Homo sapiens: one gene and its partners. The protein of the gene in region 2 interacts with the protein of the main gene of each other region in a pairwise test. Each region holds a gene or a part of one and is shown on either strand. Other genes may lie near its edges.

Region 1 (3,756 bases), on a different chromosome or scaffold from region 2:
TGCTGCATGCGACAGCGTCCGGGGTGGTGGACAGGGCCCCCGGCCACGCTCCCTCTCCTGTAGCCACTGGCATAGCCCTCCTGAGCACCCGCTGACATTTCCGTTGTACATGTTCCTGTTTATGCATTCACAAGGTGACTGGGATGTAGAGAGGCGTTAGTGGGCAGGTGGCCACAGCAGGACTGAGGACAGGCCCCCATTATCCTAGGGGTGCGCTCACCTGCAGCCCCTCCTCCTCGGGCACAGACGACTGTCGTTCTCCACCCACCAGTCAGGGACAGCAGCCTCCCTGTCACTCAGCTGAGAAGGCCAGCCCTCCCTGGCTGTGAGCAGCCTCCACTGTGTCCAGAGACATGGGCCTCCCACTCCTGTTCCTTGCTAGCCCTGGGGTGGCGTCTGCCTAGGAGCTGGCTGGCAGGTGTTGGGACCTGCTGCTCCATGGATGCATGCCCTAAGAGTGTCACTGAGCTGTGTTTTGTCTGAGCCTCTCTCGGTCAACAGCAAAGCTTGGTGTCTTGGCACTGTTAGTGACAGAGCCCAGCATCCCTTCTGCCCCCGTTCCAGCTGACATCTTGCACGGTGACCCCTTTTAGTCAGGAGAGTGCAGATCTGTGCTCATCGGAGACTGCCCCACGGCCCTGTCAGAGCCGCCACTCCTATCCCCAGGCCAGGTCCCTGGACCAGCCTCCTGTTTGCAGGCCCAGAGGAGCCAAGTCATTAAAATGGAAGTGGATTCTGGATGGCCGGGCTGCTGCTGATGTAGGAGCTGGATTTGGGAGCTCTGCTTGCCGACTGGCTGTGAGACGAGGCAGGGGCTCTGCTTCCTCAGCCCTAGAGGCGAGCCAGGCAAGGTTGGCGACTGTCATGTGGCTTGGTTTGGTCATGCCCGTCGATGTTTTGGGTATTGAATGTGGTAAGTGGAGGAAATGTTGGAACTCTGTGCAGGTGCTGCCTTGAGACCCCCAAGCTTCCACCTGTCCCTCTCCTATGTGGCAGCTGGGGAGCAGCTGAGATGTGGACTTGTATGCTGCCCACATACGTGAGGGGGAGCTGAAAGGGAGCCCCTCCTCTGAGCAGCCTCTGCCAGGCCTGTATGAGGCTTTTCCCACCAGCTCCCAACAGAGGCCTCCCCCAGCCAGGACCACCTCGTCCTCGTGGCGGGGCAGCAGGAGCGGTAGAAAGGGGTCCGATGTTTGAGGAGGCCCTTAAGGGAAGCTACTGAATTATAACACGTAAGAAAATCACCATTCCGTATTGGTTGGGGGCTCCTGTTTCTCATCCTAGCTTTTTCCTGGAAAGCCCGCTAGAAGGTTTGGGAACGAGGGGAAAGTTCTCAGAACTGTTGGCTGCTCCCCACCCGCCTCCCGCCTCCCCCGCAGGTTATGTCAGCAGCTCTGAGACAGCAGTATCACAGGCCAGATGTTGTTCCTGGCTAGATGTTTACATTTGTAAGAAATAACACTGTGAATGTAAAACAGAGCCATTCCCTTGGAATGCATATCGCTGGGCTCAACATAGAGTTTGTCTTCCTCTTGTTTACGACGTGATCTAAACCAGTCCTTAGCAAGGGGCTCAGAACACCCCGCTCTGGCAGTAGGTGTCCCCCACCCCCAAAGACCTGCCTGTGTGCTCCGGAGATGAATATGAGCTCATTAGTAAAAATGACTTCACCCACGCATATACATAAAGTATCCATGCATGTGCATATAGACACATCTATAATTTTACACACACACCTCTCAAGACGGAGATGCATGGCCTCTAAGAGTGCCCGTGTCGGTTCTTCCTGGAAGTTGACTTTCCTTAGACCCGCCAGGTCAAGTTAGCCGCGTGACGGACATCCAGGCGTGGGACGTGGTCAGGGCAGGGCTCATTCATTGCCCACTAGGATCCCACTGGCGAAGATGGTCTCCATATCAGCTCTCTGCAGAAGGGAGGAAGACTTTATCATGTTCCTAAAAATCTGTGGCAAGCACCCATCGTATTATCCAAATTTTGTTGCAAATGTGATTAATTTGGTTGTCAAGTTTTGGGGGTGGGCTGTGGGGAGATTGCTTTTGTTTTCCTGCTGGTAATATCGGGAAAGATTTTAATGAAACCAGGGTAGAATTGTTTGGCAATGCACTGAAGCGTGTTTCTTTCCCAAAATGTGCCTCCCTTCCGCTGCGGGCCCAGCTGAGTCTATGTAGGTGATGTTTCCAGCTGCCAAGTGCTCTTTGTTACTGTCCACCCTCATTTCTGCCAGCGCATGTGTCCTTTCAAGGGGAAAATGTGAAGCTGAACCCCCTCCAGACACCCAGAATGTAGCATCTGAGAAGGCCCTGTGCCCTAAAGGACACCCCTCGCCCCCATCTTCATGGAGGGGGTCATTTCAGAGCCCTCGGAGCCAATGAACAGCTCCTCCTCTTGGAGCTGAGATGAGCCCCACGTGGAGCTCGGGACGGATAGTAGACAGCAATAACTCGGTGTGTGGCCGCCTGGCAGGTGGAACTTCCTCCCGTTGCGGGGTGGAGTGAGGTTAGTTCTGTGTGTCTGGTGGGTGGAGTCAGGCTTCTCTTGCTACCTGTGAGCATCCTTCCCAGCAGACATCCTCATCGGGCTTTGTCCCTCCCCCGCTTCCTCCCTCTGCGGGGAGGACCCGGGACCACAGCTGCTGGCCAGGGTAGACTTGGAGCTGTCCTCCAGAGGGGTCACGTGTAGGAGTGAGAAGAAGGAAGATCTTGAGAGCTGCTGAGGGACCTTGGAGAGCTCAGGATGGCTCAGACGAGGACACTCGCTTGCCGGGCCTGGGCCTCCTGGGAAGGAGGGAGCTGCTCAGAATGCCGCATGACAACTGAAGGCAACCTGGAAGGTTCAGGGGCCGCTCTTCCCCCATGTGCCTGTCACGCTCTGGTGCAGTCAAAGGAACGCCTTCCCCTCAGTTGTTTCTAAGAGCAGAGTCTCCCGCTGCAATCTGGGTGGTAACTGCCAGCCTTGGAGGATCGTGGCCAACGTGGACCTGCCTACGGAGGGTGGGCTCTGACCCAAGTGGGGCCTCCTTGTCCAGGTCTCACTGCTTTGCACCGTGGTCAGAGGGACTGTCAGCTGAGCTTGAGCTCCCCTGGAGCCAGCAGGGCTGTGATGGGCGAGTCCCGGAGCCCCACCCAGACCTGAATGCTTCTGAGAGCAAAGGGAAGGACTGACGAGAGATGTATATTTAATTTTTTAACTGCTGCAAACATTGTACATCCAAATTAAAGGAAAAAAATGGAAACCATCAGTTGTTGCTGTGTGAGGCTTGCTTTGCTTCATGAGAACCTAGACCTTGCTGAGCTGGAGTCTTAGGAAGCAGTCTCCTAAGTGCTTCTCCAGCAGGGGCAGAAACTGTCCCACCAGCTAACATCTGGCATTATGGAGGGTCCCCCAGGCAGCTGCCAGCAGGGACAGGCCCCGTGTTTTCTGTAGCCAGGGATGAGGAAGTGGCCCCAGGGCATGGGCCTGGCTGGGTGCTTCTGCAAGGGCCTTCCCAAACCACAGTACAGGTGGTCTTCCTGCCCTGCAGATGGGAGCTGTGGGAGCTGCTGGAGCTGCTGGAGCCTTCATGGTCAAGTGACATCATAAGCTTATATGACATACACAAGCCTCAGGACTTGGCCCATGGCACTGAAGCAGGTCATCAGGCCCAGCACAGAGACTAGAGCTGTGTTCTCACAGGGCCCACCACCCTTCCACCTCCTTGGCCATTGACACCTGCGTCCCTGGCCCAGCTGCTCCCAG
Region 2 (5,234 bases):
GGGCCCCGGCCCCACTCACCCGGAGCTAAAGCCCTTGGCCTGCAGCCAGGCGCGGACCTCGGAGGCGTCCGAGCCCGGGCTGAGCTGCGGTTCCGGGGCGCGGGGCCCTGGGACTGCGCGGCTCGGTCCCGAGCGGCCCTGGGCCAGGCGCGCCTGCAGTTCCTCGTTGACGATGAGCATCTGGGAGAATTTCTCTGCAGGCGGGAAACCGGGAGGTAGGGAGTGCGGGCTCAGGGCGAGGGGTCCTGGGGCCAGAGGGCGGGGCGGGGGGGCGCTCCAGCGTCCCCAGAATGGGACGGGAGTCCCTTTGCTCTTTCTGAGCCCCCGTTTCTCTGCCTGGAAAGCAAGGATAAGGACCGCTCCCCGCAGCCGGCGTCCCCACCACTCACCCTTCTCGCTGGGGTCCAAGCCGTTGAGGCTATCGCAGCTGTCCCAGCGGGGCCTGTCCCAGCGGGGCCGAGCCAGAGCTGGAGGTGGGGCCGGGGCTGGGGCTGGTGGTGGAGGAGGAGTGCTGTTCTGAAAGGAAGGAGAGGAGAGTACCTGGGTTAGGGAGAGGACTCAGAGTCCCAGCCTCTCCCCTTTCTGGAGATGCATTTCTGAACCCCCAGTCACCACCTGCTCCAGCACTCTTGACAGCTGATCCCCACGCCCCTTGTTCCCAGGATCTGGTCCCAGCCTCTCCACCCTCAAGATCCCAGCGTCTGCGCTGGCTCACCAGGCTGCGGGCAGGGCTTTGGCTGTGGTGCAGCCGGGGTCCGGGGTAGGGTGTCAGGATGTTGTAGGGCACATATCCCTCCTGCCCCGCTGGGTCCCGAACCTTCCACCACTTACGACTGTCATCCAGGACCTGGGTGTGGTAAAGAACAGAGGGTTCAGAGCCTGTCTGCAGCTAGGGCTGGCTAATTCCTGCCCCTCAGCCTCCCGCTCCTCTAACCTCCAGTACGTCCCGCTGCTTGACCGACAGCTCACTGCTGTTGCGGGCCTGGAAGTCATAATTACACAGGACCCATTTTCCTGCTGTCTCTGACTCCAGCTGAGGCTCAGATTCTGGCTCCAAGTCTCGGTGACTGAGGAGAAGCGGGAGGGTTGGAGATAAGGAGGCAGCCAGCCCCATTGCTCTGGGCTGCAGGGTGCTGGTGTGAGCTGGGGTTAGAGCCAAGCTGGGGGCACAGCAGGGGCCGGGTTAATACTGTTAATAGAAATTTGAAACAAGAATAACAGACTGAATATATTTGCTCCCTCCGTTGCTTGGCATTGTGCTGTAGGCATATGTAGTGGGTACTATCCCACCATCGATTCCATTTTACAGAGGAGAATGAGGCTCAGAGCGAGAAAATGACTTGCCCACATCACACAGCTAGAAACAGCTGTCATTTATTGAGCATCTAATAGGCACTGGGCTTTATATATCATAACTCATAAGCATAATAAAAACACTAGCTAGGCCGGGCGCGGTGGCTCACGCCTGTAATCCCAGCGCTTTGGGAGGCTGAGGCGGGCAGATCATGAGGTCAAGAGATCAAGACCATCCTGGCCAACATGGTGAAACCCTGTCTCTACTAAAAAATACCCAAATTAGCTGGGCGTGGTGGCACGCGCCTGTAGTCCCAGCTATTCTGGAGGCTGAGGCAGGAGAATTGCTTGAACCTGGCAGGCAGAAGTTGCAGTGAGCTGAGATCTCACCACTGCACTCCAGCCTGATGACAGAGTGAGACTGTCTCAAAAAACAATAGCTACCACTTCTGTACCACTTACTGTGTGCTGGGCACTGTTCTGTTACGTATATTAGTTAATTTGATCTTTATGACAACGGTTGGTAGAACCATGAATTTGGACTCCCCTCTCTCCCCCAGTTTCTTCCTCCCCCAGAGACCCTATGATCTCCTCCATTTTCACAGAGGAGGAAGCTGAGGCACAGGGATGTAAAGGTCACAGAGTAAGAGAGTGGCATCGCCAGCCCGGGACCAGGGTAGCCCAGGTCTGAATAATGCTGCCTTAGTTTGCAGGCAGCTGGACTTGAACTTGAACCTGGTCACAGCCTTAAGCCCTTAACTGCTAGTTCCTACAACACCACAGACTTCTCACTGTTCCGGGAACGGATAATCATTATTCCCAGTTTCCCTGCAAAAAAGAACTTGAGGCTCGGAGAAAGTGACTTGAAGCTGTGAACAGGGACCAGGGTTGCGATATCAGGCAGCTGGGGGCAGGGGTGGGATTTCAGCTCTGACCCCCAATAAGAGGGACCTCAGCCTGGATCAGGCCTACCTGTGCAGGGGAGAGGGGGGGTCTTCAGGGCCGCGGCACCCCCTGTGTGGGGCCGGCAGCTCCCAGCACGCTGTCCCTGCTGAGACCCTCTGCTCGGGCCCTCACCCAGACCCCCCTTTGTCTCCTCCAGCCTCACTGCTTTGTTTTCGTCTCCTCCCACGTTGCTTCCCTCCAGTCTGCCCTCTATTTGCTCAAGGACCCTAGAGTTCTAGTCCATCTACCTCCTTCCCTCCCCCAGGACCCAGAGTCTGAGCCCCCACTGCTTGGTAGAACCATGACTTGGAATGTTCTTTCCTCCCCCAGGGACCTAGGAGTCCAGGTCTCAAGCTTCAATCTTATCCTTTTAACCCTCAAACCTTTTAACCCAGTCCGACACCCAGCAGCGACTTAGACAATTGCATTAGAGCCTCTGGAAAACCAAGAGTTTAATCGTCCAGCCTTTACCCCTCTCGGGGGCCCAGAGATACTACCACTTCCTAACTTTCCCAGAAACTTGCCCCCAAGCCCTTGAAGTCCCAAGCCTGCTCCTCTGGGTCTCCAGGATCCCAAGCACCAGACTTGGGCTCTTCTTCAAAACCCAAAGGTCCAATTCCCCAGCCTCTCCCCTCCAATATCCAGGGCTCTGTCCTCCTAGGGAGCCCAGGCATGGTGCTTCCCAGGCCCTGGGAAAACAAACTGGCTTCTTCCAGCCTTTTGGGGATCCAGGGATCCAACCTCTCAGACTTTACCCACTCCCAGCCCCCTTCCTCCCTTAGGCCCAGGAATCCGGGTCTCCATTCCCAACTCCCTTAGCCCCAGAAGTCTGGGTCCCGCCCCCTCCCACCCTGCTCCTCCCTCTCTCCCAGCCCCGGCCCGCCCCATCACCATCTCACCCACCTGAGAAGAGCCAGGAAGACAGAAGGAAAAACACAGAAAAAAAGGGGGCGGAGTCAGCATCGGGAGCCCCCGGGACGCACCCCTCCTTGACCCCCTTGCCCTGCCCTGGGGCGGACACTCACCCATTGACAGCGACCTGGGGGGCGCTTTGCTGTAGGAAGTAAGACAGTCGGGTCAGGCGGGGCCAGGCGGACCGGCCGCGCCCCCGGACTTCCCAGCCTCGGCCCTGCTGTGTCGCTTGGGTCACCTGCCGGCGCCTCCGCTCGTGCTGTAGCTGTTTCTCAACTGGGTCCTCCCAGGCGCGGCTCTGCGGGTCAGTGACCGGCGGCTCCCAGCCGCTGAAGAACTCGGGTCTGTATGGGGGTCCCTCCTCCGGGGACAGCTCCAGCCTGCGGCCAGGGACAGGGCCAAGAGCTCAGGGATCCTGATACAGCCCCCAACTTCGTTCCTGCATTAACTTCACTAAGTTTTCCCCTAAAGCTCGCTGTATTCCAACGATTCTAGCCCCGCCACTTTTCACCAAGTCCTGCCGGTAGCTCTAAGCCCAACTCAACAGCAATTTATATTTCTAGACCGGGCACGGTGGCTCACGCCTGTAATCCCAGCATTTTGGGAGGCCAAGATGGGAGGATCGCTTGAGGCCAGGAGTTCCAGACCAGCCTGGGCAAAATATTGAGACCCCATCCATCTCTCTCTCTGGAAAAAAATTGCCTTATCCAGCCTCTAAATCTCACCTGATTCCAAATCAGGTTTTCCGTAAGGTCGGTTTCAGGTTCTGACCCTTTCCCTGCGGAACTGCCAGCCCGCAGTGCACAGACTCTGTCCCATCACCAAAGTTATAGACCAAACCTTCCAGAAGCCCCGCCCCTTCGCGTAGCCCCGCCCCTGCCCCGTAGCCCCTAGCCCCTCTATTCCTTTAAGCCCCCCTTTTCTTTCAATCCGATTGGTCTGGTGGTCTTAAATCTTTCCTTCACGTTAATTCCTGGCCTTTCCTCCAATTGAATCTTGGCATCTGTCCTAAGCCCCGCCCCAACACAACTAAGCCACGCCTCTAACCCCTCCCTACTCTCCTAGTCCTATTTTCCAATCATCATGCCACCCACCTCCCAGCGCCTTATGCTCCTCCAATCACCATGCCCCCTGCCTCCCAGCCCCGCCCCTCACCCGGGGCGGGTCCACGAGTCCCCCAGCGAGGTCCAGAGCTCGTTTTCACGTGGAGTGACGTTGTCCCGCAGCAGCGCCACGGCATCCGATGTCAGATGCGGCCGCCGCACACTGCTCGCGAACTCCGGCCCCCCCGACGTGTTCACAATCTGTCAGGGGAGCAGGAGGGGCAGGCTGTGCCGCCACACCTTCTACAAGTCGAACCCGATTCCTCCCGCTGCAGGGGGGCCCGAGGGCCTGGGGCGGGTCTCACCATCTGCAGAGGCCCGAAAAGGAAGTGCAACAGCTCCGGAGAGGAGGGGTCGGCGATGTTGCCGCGCAGCCGGGCCTGGGGCGTGGGGAGGGAGGTGGTTGGCGTGGGTGCGGGGACGGGACAGGTTCGTCGTGCCCGCGCCCCGGCCCAGGGGCGGGCGCGTCCTCACCAGCAGGCTGAAGGCGTACTTGATCTTCTGCAGCACGTCGGTGTACTCGGCCTCCGAGGGCGGCTTGGCCCGCAGCGTCAGCAAGCCCTCTGAGGGGAGCAGACGGGCGCGGCGATGGGGACGCGGGGCCAGCACCAGGCAGGCAGAGAGAGGTGGACACCCGGTTAAGATGGCGGTGAGGTCAGCCCTGGCAAGTGGCGGGAGGGGAGAGCCTGGGGAGAGCGGGGACATTTGGAAGAGATCGGGAGGGGGTTCAGATCCCACGCCAGGGTGCCCCTTACCCCCAGCCGCCCGGCGCCGGCTCCTGCGGCCGCGTTCCCGGTGCTCCAGCACCCTGGCCGCCTCCGCCGACTTCTGCAGCCTCGATACAAAGCTCTCTACGTCGTCGAACACGTGGTTCAGGATGTCCTAGGGGACAGAGGAGGGGGACGCTCAGGGCTCCCGAGTTCCAAAACCATCCCCGTCGAAGCCCTGAACCTGAGCACCTATACACTTCCCCAGATCAGG
Region 3 (4,367 bases), on a different chromosome or scaffold from region 2:
GTTGGTGAGAAATTCTGGCTAACAATGCCACTGTTAGTTTTTCAAAATCATCAGTTTAATTTTCAAAGAGAAGACTCTGTATAATAAATGTAACTCTTAAAATATGATACAAGCTGGGCATGGTGGCTCACGCCTGTACTCTCATCACTTTGGGAGGCCAAGGAGGGTGGATCCCCTGAGGTCAGGAGTTTGTGACCAGCCTGGCCAACCTGATGAAACCCTGTCTCTGCTAAAAATACAAAAATTAGCTAGGTGTGGTAATGCACGCCTGTAATCTCAGCTACTCAAAAGGCTGAGGCAGGAGAATTGCTTGAACCAGGGAGGTGGAGGTTACAGTGACTTGAGATCGCACCCCTGCACTCTAGCCTGGGCGACAGAGTGAGACTCCATCTCAAAACAACAACAACAAACACAGAAGGAAATACACCAAAATATGGGGAGTTGCTTCTGGGCTTCAAGGTTATGAGTAATTTGTATCTTTATGTTTTCTACATAGTCCAAGTTTTCTATGATAAGCATAAAATACTCTTACAATCTGAAAAAAAAGGTATCATTAGAAAAAACACCTTTGTGACACCCACTTTCATCTTTCCCTGAGGCGTGGAACCTTCAGGAAGCACACTGCCCCACGGCACCAGGGACAGCCACTTCCCTTGCGCAGGACAACGTCCTAACTCACCACCCCTGGCCTGAGCTGCGTCCCTTTCCTCCCCTGCCTCTCTGTTTGAAAGAGATTATCTATGAAGGGTCAGCCTGCCTCCTCCCAAAGTGAACATGCTTGTCCAGGTCTGTGTGGGCCCACAGCCCCTCAGCTGGTCTGCCCAGACTCGACGGACATCAGCTCAGGGGCATGGGCCACTCTGACTGCAGGCCACATTACAGTCTCCAGCTTTGCCTCAGGGAAACTGCCTCTCAGCTGAACCCAGGATCGATGTCTCAGTTTGGATCAGAACCCAGCAGGGAAGCAGGATGTATAGTTACCACTTGGAGATACCAACACAAGCCAAAGAGAATGAAAATGGCTTGGTCTGTTAAATATCCCATGTTAAGTCCAGAAACAGTGTCTAAAATGAGAAGGCCACCAGCAAAACAGAAACTGAAATTTCCCAACAGCATCACCAGCGTTAGGTTTGGTAAGATTTTAGTTGTTCAGTTAGCAAGCAGCATTACAAGCTGCTCAACCCTCCAGAGGCTGTTCTAAGCCTCACACAGACCCACCTCTTCTGTCCGCCAAGCACCGGCGAAGCAGCTTCACAGCCTCGCGACGGCCCTGCTTCGCGGCGAGGACCAGCCAGTCCACAGCGGTGCAGCTGTTGAGTTCTTCATCCGTGTCGCCGGCCAACTGCAGGTAGTGCTTCCCCACCTGCAAGCCAGACACCAGTCAGCCTCCAGATTCTCCGACCCTCTCCCACCCCATGCTCCCTGCCAGCCCACCTCCTTTCACCCACTTCCCTTTGTCACCCAGGCCAGGAAGGAAGGGGCAGAAATGGGGTCACACCAGGCATGTCCACTAGGCTAGGCCCTACTGAGCCTCCGGCCACTCGCTCCTCAAAACACGGTGAGGAAGGTGTGGCCACCCCATCCACACGGCGAGGGAGACACGGGCTCCGACTGGTACTGGTACAGGTTCTCTTCCTTGAGTTGCTCCTGCCTGCCAAGGCTCACCATCAATGCATGGAAATCAGAACCATGACTGGGTCCTTTACACCTCTCAAAACAGTCAGGGGACCATAGAAAGCCAGGGCTGGAGAGACGCCAGCTAACCAAGGGTTAGCACTGGCCCACTGCCTGTTTTTGCAAATAAAGTTTTATTGAAATACAACCATAACCATTCATTTACATGTTGTCCATGCTGCTTTTACGTGCTCCACAGCAAAGCTGAGCAACACGGCAGAGATTGCGCAGAGTCCAGAATATTCACTATCTGGCCCTTTGCAAAAAGAATCCCTGCTGAAATGGTCCAGTCTTCTCATTCTACAGATGGAAAAAGTGAGGCCCAGGGCACAGAGAGCCCATAAAAGGGCTTACTATGCTCCCCCCGCCTCCAAATGCCTGGGCAAAAGGATGTGGGAGGAACTTTAAAGTACAATATGGCTGTGAGGTCAGGAAAGAAATTTTTTTTTTTTTTTTTTTGAGACAGAGTCTTGCTCTGTTGCTCAGTTGGGAGCGTGGTGGTGCGATCTCGGCTCACTGCAACCTCCACTTCCTGGGTTCAAGTGATTTTCCTGTCTCAGCCTCCCAAGTAGCTGGGATTACAGGCATGCACCACCATGTCTGGCTAATTTTTCTATTTGTAGTGGAGACACGGTTTCATCATGTTGGCCAGGCTGGTCACGAACTCCTGACCTCAGGTGATCCACCCGCCTCAGCCTCCCAAAGTGCTGGGATTACAGGCGTGAGCCACCGCTCCCAGCCAGAAATTCTTAATTTATGGTTTCGCGTGGAAGCTTTTCTCCTCTTTAGGGAGAAGAGGGGGCAGGAAACTGCTCAGGATAACTGTGGTCACTTGCTTGAGCCCTGTGCAAGGGGACAGAGTGAGGTGGTGAGAACTTGCCTCCACAGAGGACACAGGACCCCCTGCCACCTCCCGTCTCAGCGTTCTGCTGGCTTCTCCCCTCACCAGAATTCAAAATCACTGTATTTCTGTGTCTTGTCTACTTGGGTTTTTTGGGTCTGCTTCTTCCACTAACCTGTCACCCATGAAGAGAGGGCCACATCATGTCCCCAGCACTGGCACAAAGCCCAGCCCTTGGCTGATGCCCAAGTGAATGGTCACCGCTCTGAGGGCCCCGTGCACACAGCTAACAGCCAGGTGAAAGGCCAGTCAGGGAGACAAGAGTGGGCAGCATACACAGTGTATGTTGAGGGGTGGCACTGAGCAGGCAGCTGCAGGAAGCCAGGAGGTCATCCTGGAGGAGGTGATGCCCAAGATGAGGTGTGAGTTGGACAAAAGGGGGATGAGCGCTGCTCCCCAGAGGAGTGCCAGGAGGAAAACTGGCACAGTGAACATGGGCACCCTACCAACATGGGGCTCAAGTGGGGTAGGGTGCACCACGCTGGCTCCTGACCCCGATCTCAGGCACCGACACTTCTCTGTGGGCTGTGGAGCTCGTGGCCAGGCCTGTTGTGCCGGGGGCCGCGTCCCGAAGTCCCTGCCGGCACCGCAGTCCTCACCTCAGTCTGTGCCTTGGGGTCCCCGGCCTTGGCCCTCTCCAGGACTTCTTCAAAGGGGATTTCCATGTCTCCCTTTGTAGGCCCTTTAACACAGAAGAAACAAACACACATGTCACAAAGCCAGACTTTGTCACTTGTCAGGATGGAGGGGACAAGGCATGAGGGTCTTCAGATCTGCTGCTGCTTGTCACTTTCAAATCCAGGCCAGGAGTACAGAGAGACACAGACACAGACAGGGAAGATGCCCAGAAAGCCACTGTTTGCCTTCCGGTCACAAGCAGCGCCAGAGCAAGATGAGCAAACTCTATGCGGGTGAGGTGGTTCAACAGCAACTCAAAGCGCTCGGGGTGGGAGGCATGGGAAGGAGGCGAGCACAGAGCCAAGTCCCACCATCACACCCCTTGGCCTAGGCCTGCTCTAGCTGGGGCTCTAGAAAGATCCAAGGACTCAAGTTTGACAGCCCATGACCTAAATAATACAAAGCACCTGTACCCGAAGCCCAGAACCCCAACAAATCAAGTTCATGTTTTCCATGATTGTACCAACAAAAACCACATTTTTTGGATATTATAATCAGTGTATATACATCTTGATATTACCTTTTCCTTCTTAAGAGTGAATGCCTTAGTCTGTTCGAGCTGTTATAACAAAAATATTAATACCATAGACCAAGCTGGTGGCTTACAAACATCAGAAATGTATTTCTTTCGATTCTGGAGACTGGGAAGTCCAAGATCATAGTGTTGCAGACTCCGTGTCTACTGAGGGCCTGCTTTTTGTTTCAGGTCTTCTGGCTGTGTCCTCACAGGGTGGAAGGGGCAAGGGAGCTCCCTGAGGTTTCTTTTATAGGGGCACTAATTCCACCGTAAAGCCATCGCTCATGATTCATCACCTCCAAAGGCCCCACCTCCTAACACCATGGGACTGGGGGTGAAGACCTCAGCAAATGAATCTGGGAGAGACACAAACTTTCAGTCCACAGCAGTGGATTGTTCTCTGGCTTCCCACGATGCGCTGCAGTCAGCTCACCATTTTGGTGGCTCCTAGATCCATCAAGGAGACAGAGTCAGGTTACTGACCCTCCCCTCCTCTCCATCAGGTCTGTAGGTTGCTTCCAATAACCTCTTGTTTTCTACGGTGGTGCCATGAACCGTTTCTTTTCTTTTGGGAAGTCATTTTCCTAGCACAGGTTC
Region 4 (4,367 bases), on a different chromosome or scaffold from region 2:
TATACCTACCTTTACTCCATGTCCAATATCATCTAGAATTGTATAGTCAATAGGTTTTCTAATATAACGAACTGGTCGTTCAAGGTTGGCTGGAGCAATAATCTTATGTGTCCTTGAAGTGTTTTTATTGGTAGTCAAAATACCAATTTCTCTTCTTGCAACTTTCTCTTTATGAATATCAACTGTCTGCAAAATATAATGTAAAAAACAACACAAAAATGTATAGTTCTAATATCCACAAAAATCAAAATATATATGCCTAGAGATTTAATATTGCTACTCATATTCTAAACTATGCTTGCTAAATTTTTATTCTTCTGGACTACTGATTTTCTCCATTTTTAGGTTAAAGCAAGGGCTGGTAAACCATGGCCCACAGGCCAAATCTGGCCCATCATCTGATTTTTACAGCCCACAAGCTAAGAGTGGTGTTTACATTTTTTAATGTTTGGAGAAAAGAACAACCAAAAAAAACCTTCACGTGAAAATTATATAAAATTCAAATTTGCTTTTCCATAAGTAAAGTTTTATTGGAATACAGCCATGCCGCTCACTTGCTTATCTGTCTAGGCTTTACACTGTAATGGCAGAGATGAGCCACAACAGAGATGGTATGGCCCACAAAAACTGAAGTATATATTAGCTGGCTCCTTTACAGAAAAGGTTTGCCAACCCCTGGGTTAAAGCATGCTAATTTTTCCCTCTCCATTAAGATTTAGACTAATATAGTGATTAAGAAAGCCCCCGAAATTAATCTAGTTACATTTCTAATGACCTATTAGTATAATTTCTATTCATGTTTAAACATCTTTTTATTTAAAAAGAAAGAGGGCTGAAATATAATGTTAAAAATAAAGCCAGGCACAGTGGCTCAGGCCCGTAATCCAAGCACTTTGGGAGGCCAAGGTGGGCAGATTGCTTGATCCCAGGAGTTCATGACCAGCCTGGGCAACATGGCGAAACCCCGTCTCTACAAAAAGTAGCTGGGTATGACAGCACATGCCTGTAATCCCAGCTAACTGAGAGGCTGAAATAAGAGAACTGCTTGAGTCCAGGAGGTCAAAGCTGCAGTGAGCCATGAATGCACCACTGCACTCTAGCCTGGGTGACAGAGCAAGACCCTGTGTCAAAAAACAAAAAAGCCATTTTTTGACCCCAAAAGACCAAGTTGCTTGGGCAAAGCTGCTTATATTTTATCATGACAAAATGCCTGTAAAATATTTCATTAATTTATTTATATTTATTAAATGCTCACATAAGACATACGAGTAAGAATGTATTGTAATTACAATCTTCTATTTGCTAACAGAGGGTGAATTTCTCCACATACACAGGTAATTAGTACACTAAAGCAAAATTTTTTAAACTGCAAGCTGCAATTTAGTGGTATGTAAGCAGCAATTATTTCAAATCAAATAGAACAGAAACATCAGACTGCATGTACACATAGTAAGGTAAAATACTGTTTCTTGAAAAGTCTGTTTATTATATATATAAATATATACATGAATTATGTGCTGAATACAACGTAAAAAAAATTTTTTCCTGTGTGTCGCAGTCAAAAGAGTTTGAAAAATCACTTCACTAAAATGGTTCACATCTCTTACCACCAATTCCTGGCTCAAGCAGCAATCAACAGACACATTTTTTGCTAACTCCTCCCCAGTCCCACTTCAATGTCCTACTTCAATTTCCCCTTTCTAAAAGAACCTGGTAGTAACAGTGAAAAGATAATCATCATGACATTATAAAATACTGCTTTAAGAAATCTGAACACTGATCATTTATCCTTCTAAACTGCCTCAAGTATGAGGTAAGCCTGAAACAAATTCAAAGCCTCTTATTTCTCTACAACCAAGAGACCTTAAAAACAACAGGATCTATATGTTCCAGAGCTAACGAATGTATAAATGGAACATCAAATAAAAAACTAACCATGGTAGTAATCTTACAATTTTAAGTATTCAAGAAAAAAACAATCTCAGCCAGGCATGGTGGCTCACGCCTATAATCCCAGCACTTTGGGAGGCCAAGGTGGGCGGATCACAAAGTCCGGAGATCGAGACCATCCTGGCTAACACGGTGAAACCCCGTCTCTACTAAAAATACAAAAATTAGCCGGGCATGGTGGCGGGTGCCTGTAGTCCCAGCTACTTGGGGGGCTGAGGCAGGAGAATGGCGTGAACCCAGGAGGCAGAGCTTGCAATGAGCCGAGATTGTGCCACTGCACTCCAGCCTGGGCAACAGAGCGAGACTCCATCTTAAAAAAAAAAAAGAAAAGAAAAGAAAAAGAAAAAGAAAAAAAATAATCTCTAAACTTTTCTACGCATGTTAGGCTAATTATGAGAATAGCTTTCCTCTTCAACTGCTTGGGAAAACTGTAACAGAAAAGTTAAGCTTGCATATTAGTGATGATATTGGAATTCACTTAATTTTTAACTTTAGAGAAATGGAAATTAATCACATTTGGATTAAATTTTATTTTTATGAGACAGTATCTCACTCTGTCGCCCAGGCTGGAGTGGACTGGCCCGATCATGGCTCACTGCATCCTCGACCTCTCAGGCTGAAATGATTCTCCCGCCTGAGCTTCCTAAGGAGCTGGGACTACAGGCGTGTTCCACCATGCTGGCCTAATTTCTCTACTGTCTGTAGAGTTGGGGTTTTTCCATGTTGCCCAGGCAGGTCTTGAACTCCTAAGCTCAAGTGATCCACCCACCTTGGCCTCCCAAAGTGCTGGGATTACAGGAGTAAGCCAATGTACTGGCCTTGAATAAAGTTTAGTGAGTCATTCTAAATCATTAAAAGTATGGGCTAGAAATACCATTTCATACCATCAAGTATGCTTCAAAAAATAAAATATGACACTTTTTTTATAAAATGGGTCTTCGTCAGATCAATAAAAGGTTCATCAGATAACACAATCCTCAAGACATTGTTTTTATTCTCCTCAGTTTTTAGAAATGTACTTAACTTATTCAGAAATGAAACTATAAGAGTGTAAACCTGAGCAGCCATAACAGAATTACAAGCTTATAGCTTCTATTTCACATCTGCATACTATAAATATACATTTTTTTGCAACAGGTTCTCACTCTGTCACAGAGGCTGGAGTGCAATGGGACAATCATAGCATACTGTAGTCTTGAACTCCTAGGCTCAAGCATCCTCTTACCTCAGCCTCCTGAGTAGCTAGGACTACAGGCATGTACCACCATGCCCAGCTAATTTTATTTTTTGTAGAGATGGGATGTCACTGTGTTGCCCAGGATGGTCTTGAACTCCTGACCTCAAACAATGCTCCTGCCTCAGTCTCCCAAAGTGCTGGGATTATAGGCATGAGCCACTATGCCTGGCACATACTAGAAATATTAATAAATCTCCAGAGAATGAACAGGGAGAAGTAATCTTCCACTTATTATTTACACTAACACACAGTAATATTTTATAACAAGCACATATTTCTTGTTTGAAAAATTGAGACTTTAAAAAAGCATTAAAATATAAATTAGAAATCTGTTCATTTGATCTTATAGAGATGTGACTTGGTCTAGGGATTGGGGACATTTACATATTACCCACATGTTCTCTTCATATACACACAAACACACACTTAGCCCAAACCCATAGACCATAACAGTAAAAAAAAAAAAAAAAAAAGGGAAGACCAATACAGTAAATAGAAAGATAACAATAAGCCTAAAATAAAGGGTCATTGTTATAATAGAGCAAAAAAATTGGCACTAAGCCTCCAGGGAGAGAAGGCAAAATAGAAACATAATGAGTTACGAGGAAATATATCAATTCATCAGGAAAGTGAAATGTTTCCCAGGATTAAATTCTTTAAAAATATATTTGTTGTTGCTTTTTATATCAAATCTCAGTAAAAACTGAAGGCATGTTTTTTAAACAGCATAAGTATACAGAAAGTCAAAATAATTTAGTTTGGCTATATGATGTTTTTAATTGTCTACTTCAAAGAATGCCTACATCTTAGAAACACTAGGGGCAGGGTAACTCAACAGTGGCACTATTGACATTTTGGGCTTGATAATTCTTTGTTGTGGGCAGGGGTGAAGGCTGCTGTCTTGAGGATTGCAGAATATAGAAAAGCATCCAGGTAGATAACTGTAGCACTCCCCCACCATGAGATGTGACAACCAAAAATGTCTAACATTGCCAAATGTCCCCTTGGGGGCAAAACTTCCCTGGTTGAGAACCAAAGATCTATAGAGGAAGGACTAATTAGCTGGTCCCTTACCTCATTCAATCTCAAACTGCAATTGTTTCCAAATTTGGTCACAAAAGTCGACTCAAGATCAACGCCTCTAATTTGCCTAAGTATAGATATTTTAAGTAAATAACTT

What was found. Proteins that work in one complex are often made in the same cells at the same time.
Region 1: the proteins of EPS8L1 (region 2) and HTT interact in binary tests that used the Homo sapiens proteins (3 or more experiments, as listed by UniProt).
Region 3: the proteins of EPS8L1 (region 2) and WFS1 interact in binary tests that used the Homo sapiens proteins (3 or more experiments, as listed by UniProt).
Region 4: the proteins of EPS8L1 (region 2) and ABI2 interact in binary tests that used the Homo sapiens proteins (3 or more experiments, as listed by UniProt).

Annotation. Positions count from the first base shown.
Region 1 is NC_000004.12:3,240,702-3,244,457, forward strand, and holds the end of HTT (huntingtin), read left to right. Parts: 3' UTR 1-3,256; downstream 3,257-3,756.
Region 2 is NC_000019.10:55,081,674-55,086,907, reverse strand, and holds part of EPS8L1 (epidermal growth factor receptor kinase substrate 8-like protein 1), read right to left. Parts: intron 5,136-5,234; coding exon 5,009-5,135; intron 4,817-5,008; coding exon 4,728-4,816; intron 4,634-4,727; coding exon 4,559-4,633; intron 4,455-4,558; coding exon 4,306-4,454; intron 3,531-4,305; coding exon 3,389-3,530; coding exon of another isoform or gene 3,293-3,388; coding exon 3,264-3,292; intron 3,142-3,263; coding exon of another isoform or gene 3,126-3,141; exon of another isoform or gene 2,666-3,125; intron 1,190-2,665; coding exon of another isoform or gene 1,150-1,189; exon of another isoform or gene 1,068-1,149; coding exon 935-1,067; intron 848-934; coding exon 716-847; intron 517-715; coding exon 390-516; intron 195-389; coding exon 20-194; intron 1-19. UniProt on the Homo sapiens protein: Stimulates guanine exchange activity of SOS1. May play a role in membrane ruffling and remodeling of the actin cytoskeleton.
Region 3 is NC_000004.12:6,285,983-6,290,349, reverse strand, and holds part of WFS1 (wolframin), read right to left. Parts: intron 3,258-4,367; coding exon 3,175-3,257; intron 1,364-3,174; coding exon 1,219-1,363; intron 1-1,218. UniProt on the Homo sapiens protein: Participates in the regulation of cellular Ca(2+) homeostasis, at least partly, by modulating the filling state of the endoplasmic reticulum Ca(2+) store.
Region 4 is NC_000002.12:203,376,027-203,380,393, reverse strand, and holds part of ABI2 (abl interactor 2), read right to left. Parts: coding exon of another isoform or gene 4,262-4,367; intron 187-4,261; coding exon 10-186; intron 1-9. UniProt on the Homo sapiens protein: Regulator of actin cytoskeleton dynamics underlying cell motility and adhesion. Functions as a component of the WAVE complex, which activates actin nucleating machinery Arp2/3 to drive lamellipodia formation.